Regions from separate parts of the Homo sapiens genome. Here region 2 is linked to region 1. The links come from fine-mapping of genetic effects on gene expression. A gene starts in region 1. The other region holds a variant in brackets. All regions are shown on one strand. Distances are from middle to middle.

Region 1 (2,909 bases):
TCTCCCCTGCCTTTTAACTCCTTGTCCTTTGTTTGGGCATACATTTTCTGAATGTCTTTTTCAGAGTACCTTCTTGTGAGTTTCATTGATTTTGTTTAATCGGCTTCCCATTAATTAAGAAAGAGAATTAACTGGGAAATAGGCACGTGTGCAGAGTTAAAAGTAAGCTAGGGTCGTCGTAAAGGAAATAAAGCTGATGTTAGAAAACATGTGAGATAACCCTTTCATTCTATGGCTCTGGGCTTTCATTACACTTTGTGTTTGTGGAACACTGGCCCTGTTTACTCAATGTTGAGTCTCAGCAAAGGGGTGTGGATGAGAGGACTCAAGAGGGGAGCATTTGGCACCCGTATGGCCCCAAAGCACAGTTTTCAGCTTACTCACATGGTTATTTTAAAGTAACACTGTTTTGAAACTCCTTCGGTCCTCATTTTTACCTAGACATTTTACAGTACAGGAATCCTGAATTTATGTTATCTGATGTCTACATCCTACTTGGTGTCAGGATCATTAGACTGTCTTACCTGTCTCTGAGTCATAAGCCACTGTCATGAACCCAAGCCACTGTTTTTTATTTTTCTTTCCATCACAAGCATGGTCTCAGTATATCCATGTAGACTCTGATATAGTTTTTAAAATACATTTTCTTCCAACCCCTCCCCCTGAGCTTCTGTTTTTATATATTTGCTTGCAAATAAGTTTAATTGGCTAAGAAAACTACTCCAGAATTTTTCAGTTTCTTTCCTTTTGTTATAGAGAAAGAGAGAGAGAGAGACATGCTTCATGCTGATGGTAGTGAAACAAATGAGAACTTCAGGGTGGCATATATTTTCCTGCAAGTAACTGTAGAGAAAAGACACCAAAGCCTTAAAGAGGAAAGTTGTAGGCATTCTGGAGTCACAACTTCGGGGGTTGAGGTTGTCAAGGAGCTGTCCGTGATGGTTCTATGGTGTGTGCGTACACACATACTCTCTCTCTCACACACACACACCACAGTGACAGATGACCTATTGAAATAATTTCAGAGCCGGTCTGTGGTTGCTACGACAACCAATGATCTCTTGGCTTTCATCTGGCCATGTGACAGGGACTTTGACGTCAGCTAGAGGCAGAGTCTGTGGCTGAGTCCACACAGTCAAAGGCTTGTGAGAATCTGGTGGATGCTGGACCTTGCTGCTGCTGCTACTGCTGTTTCCAGGGGCTGCAGAGCATGGACTGTTAAATCTTGCACTTCTTCTGAGTGAGGTAATTAGTTTGCTTTATATACAATAGTTAGATGTTTTTATAGCTCATTGTGGTTTTCCCCTCTCTCTTACCTCCTACAAGTTTGTATTCATGAGCAATTATTGTTGTACCAAGGGGAAAATGTGAAGCAGCTTCTAGTTGTGAATTTCAGGCAGGTTCTCTGGAATTTGGTTAAATTTGGATTAATGTTTTGTGAAGTAGGTTAAAATATAATCGTCTTGCTTGCTCAACACTTGCTAACATAACATTATTTAGACATACGGATTTTGCAGCTTGAGCCAAATATTCTCTCTTGAATTCCAGGAATCCTCCCTTCAGTATTGTTTTGGGTTTAAAAACTCCAGCATAGCCTTGCAATGTGTTTCTAACTTTTCTTTTTACAATTGCTACTCAATTCTGAATCAGCCTAAAATAGTTTGGAATTTGGTTTCTATCTTGTTTGCAGCATTCATATTTAGCAACAATAGGAACCACGGGAAATAACATTATAACTGAAACAAAAGTTGGGATTTTGCTTGTAAGTAAAACCTTTGGTATTCTGAAAGTACCAGGAAAAATTGTCAACAGTTTCCTGTTTAGAGAGAAATAATCGGGAATATGCCAAGGAAGTTGGGGTGGAACCTTTTACATGTGTGCATGCAATTGCTTTTTGGTTGTTAGAGCAAAGTGCATATTTCCAGTATCCTCCCCTGAAAATTCAGCTGTGAAGAGAATGGCATGAGGTGGTCTTTACTAAGGAGTCATGTAAGCTGTTGTTATTTTTAAAAATCGTCATAATTACCTAAAGAAAAAAACAATAGCCCTAAAATGAAAAGTATCATTGACACAAGTTCTACTTTAACTCAAACACAGATAGAAGTAGTCACTCACAATTTGCTCTGGATCTTAAATGAATAATTTGATAACTGTGATTAATAAGAATTTTTATCTCTTTATTCCTATAATACTATTTACTACAAATTGTTTTCTTTGTATTGTAGTTCCTTTCCTTCCCAAGTTTAGTAATTTCAGATTTTCTTTCATGACATACAGGTTGAATTGTTTTGGAGCTTCTAATTTAAAGAATACCTGTAGTACTGAAGTTAGCCAAAGTCTAGATTTATAACCAGGTGTCTAAATCTTACAAGTTTAACAGAAAAAGGGGCAAATTTTAGAGCACTACATGTAATACAGCTAGTATTTTAATTAGTAGAAGAAACTGGTTTAACTGTATATATGAATACCATATATTCACAGTGTGTGAATTATATCGTAATTTAGTGCAAGAATATATTGTTTTAATTTTTATGTTCTTTATTAGTTTCAGAATTCTAATAGCATTTATTTTACTCTTGGAGGTGAAAAATTTTGAACAGTATTTAGCTACAGTAATAAGTGAATAACTGTGGGTATATCAATAATTTCTCAGTAGCTTTCAATGAGTGAATATTCATTTAACTTGCTGGCATTTGACATGTCTGTTTTTGGTCAGGGTCTCCGTGGAGGATTTTCCAAAAGTCTAATGTGCTTTCATTCCAGGCACATCTACTGAGACATAATCTCATCACTTAATTGATCTCAAAATTATAATAACCCAGAGGCCATATTCTTAACACCCCTAGAAAAATGATAATTTATATGTAACATTTCAGTTGAGCACAGATAAGACCAGTAGCACCGTCATT
Region 2 (2,909 bases), 330 kb before region 1:
GTTTTAGTATTTGATGATGGTTTAACAGCCTCCTAGATAATTTTTGTTTTACAATTGAAGGCAACCGGTAGAGCTAGGAAAGGGTGCTTTTGATTAGATGAAACTTTTACTTGGTGTTTAAATCAGAGTTGGCAGCTGTCTGGACCTCAATGTAACTGTCCTTTCTATAACCAGTCATGTTAAAAGATTTTGCAAACATTACAACGAGGAAGGCCAGGTCACGGTGCCTTTGCAGCCTTGTTATTTTTAAGCAGCAACTTTTTAAATTGATGAATTTGAGTTGCTCTTGAGACCTTCTGCGGGTTCTGGAAATGTCACCAGGGTTGACAAGCACAAGGAGTTAGTTACAGTGGCTTTTTGAGAGGCCATGAGTGGACGACACAGCAAGACAGGAAACAGGTGCTGGCAGCCAGCAGGTACTCGATAAATATTGGGTGAATGAATTGACAAGACATTTTGCTTCTCATTATCTCCACACGAGATGAAAAATTTGAGGGGAGGAAGGAGGGGCAGGAGAGGGGCCCCTTAGATGTCTTCCTCCGGATTTTTTGTTAAGCTTTTCCTAGACAGTTTACAGAAGGCTTTGGGTAGAGAAAGCACTAGTTAGACAAAAGCAGCCCCCCTCCCACCTTGTGGGCATGAAGAGTCCAGAGGACACCACCTGAGAAGCTTTTCAACTGCCTTCCAAGGCTCCCTTGAACTTCACTGCGGTAGAGCAGGGACCCCAGACCCCCCCTCAAATCGAAGCTTGGAAGGAGGTGCTCTAGGCTGAATCTGACCTCCCAGGACCCGAGGAGGCAAGCAGATGGCACCCCTTGGAAAGTAGCAGTGCAGGCTGGCTAGAGGCCTGGGCGGTGAGCTAGGACTATGGGGCACCGTGGGGACACGCCCGGAGGCTGCACCAGGGCAAGCGGGGGAGGGGGGGGGCGTCCACTGCACCTGCAAATCCCGCGCCTCATCTTGGCCCCCCTGCAACCCCGCGGTGAAGCCCACGCCGGAGAGGCTGCCTGCGGGGCTGCAGTGGAGAGGGGGTCTGCGGCCGCGAGGAGGGAGGCGGCGAGCCAGGCTGGGGAGGGGGGCGCGGCTGGCGACGGTGCTGTCCAGGGGGAGGCGGGCGGAGGGAAGGCGCTGCCGCTGCTGCC[G/T]CCGCCTCGCCCGAAGCGACACAGACGCTGGGAGCGGCCGAGGCGGTGAGTCGCAGCGCCTTCCCTCCGCTTCTCGGGAGCCAGAGCGGAGTCGGAGTTGCAGCCGGGGCGGGTGTGCCGGGGGCGGCTGCTGGGGGGGACCCGTGCGCTCGGTGCGCCGCGGGCGCAGGGGTGGGTTCGAGGAGCGCGCGGTTCTGGGAACCTGGTTCCAGCAGCTCCCTCCTGGGTGCAGTTCACCCTGTCAATTCCTCTGTCATTCCCCCAGTGCCTCTGAGGGAAAACAAAACAAAATTACAGACCTTGAGGGTGGGCGGCAGAAAAGGAGAGAGCAACTTTGCAGAGGGCCGCGCAGAGGCGCGTGGGGCCGGCGGGATGGGGCGCGCTGGGCAGAAGGGGGCGTTGGTGAGCCTGGCGGCCCGGGGACCTCTGGAGCATCCCGCCCCGGGGGCCGGGGCCGGGGCCGGGGGCCGGGGCACCCGCTGGATCCCGGGCCTGCGGAGTCTGCCCGGAAAGGCCACAGGAGGCGAGTGCGGGGCGTGGGCGTCTGGGGAGGGGGCCAAGGGAGAGGCCGAAAGGCGCTGGTTGAACACGGACGAGGAAGTGGTCTGCATTTTGGACTCAGGACCTGAAAGATTCGTGTCCCTTGCGCTCGAGGACTTGGGAAGGGTGTGCTGGGGAGATGTGTTTGAGTGTTTTTCAGTGCATACCGATTTATTTTTAGCTCCCAGAGAAGCAGGATGTGCAAAGTGGGTTGTATCAGCCCGGGAGGGGCAGGAGGTCTCCCTGTCCGCAGGAAATACACAAGTTTTTTTTTTTTTTTTCTAATGCTGCAGATGCTTGCTTTAACTTTTGTGCATGGAGAAAGAATGCCATTTGGCTCTGCAGAGCTCCTGCCAGGGTCAGTTTCTTCCTGCGGGTCTGTCGGAGGCCGCAGGCGAGGCGGCTGGTGTGCTGCTGTGCTTACACGCTAGCCCCGCAAGAAGGTCTATGTTCTGTTCCGTAGGGCAGCTACGGTGAAACACAGAAGTAGGCAGCCAAGGTCTCACTCTCTCAGAAGGAAACCACACAAGCTCGCTCAAAGTTTTCCTACTTCTGGCTGATTTGAAAATAACAGACCTAAGCCACTGTATTACCAAGAGCAGAGTTTGCTGTCAGGGGTTTCTCAGACCTAAGTGGAAATGCTTGTGAGGTTTTTCACTCCAATTGGGAGATCCCCGTGTTTTATGGCCAAAGGCCTTGATGCAGACTACAAAGGAGAGGGGGTGTGGTGTGATGGTGGGAGTGTGGGTACTTGCGGTAGCGGGGCAAGGACAGATCTGGGGAGGAGGCTCAAGAAACTGAAATTCACATGTTTACCTACCCAAGCCAGATCTCTGGAAATTGTCCTGGAGTCTCCCCTGTCTCAACCATTCAGTGTCCAGTCCTGTAGACCCTCTGTCTGTAACTGTATTAGGAGAGTTGCCAATATGGACATTAGGAGTGTGGGCTCTGCAGCCAGACAGCCGGGTTTGAGCTGTGGCTCATTCGTCAATAGCTCCTGGATCTTGGGGTCCTTACTTAACCTCTACTGTGTTTTCTGATGTGAGGCATGAGGTTGATAATAGATAACAAAGCTATCTCAGGGTTACTGTGAAGATAAAATGAGTTAATACCCAGAAAGCACTAAGCATCATGCCTTGTTGTAAGTGCTGCATAAATGTGAGCTCTTATTATTTTTGTTGTTGTTGCTATACGCCCTCTTCTCTCAGTTCCTGCTGTCACTGACTT

What was found. PIP is the estimated chance that this variant, and not a neighbour inherited with it, causes the effect.
Region 2: its variant is fine-mapped to the expression of NCALD in whole blood (TOPMed, PIP 0.97).

The regions. Positions count from the first base shown.
Region 1 is chr8:101,789,198-101,792,106 of GRCh38, reverse strand. NCALD (neurocalcin delta) reads left to right here and starts at 1,138. Exons shown (of 4, transcript NM_032041.3): 1 at 1,138-1,245.
Region 2 is chr8:102,122,515-102,125,423 of GRCh38, reverse strand. It overlaps a transcript of NCALD not described here. Among named protein-coding and RNA genes, the nearest start is that of MIR5680, 1.5 kb to the left of the region's middle. RefSeq lists silencers at 1,088-1,147, 1,518-1,707. The variant G/T (reference allele first, on the strand shown) is at 1,143.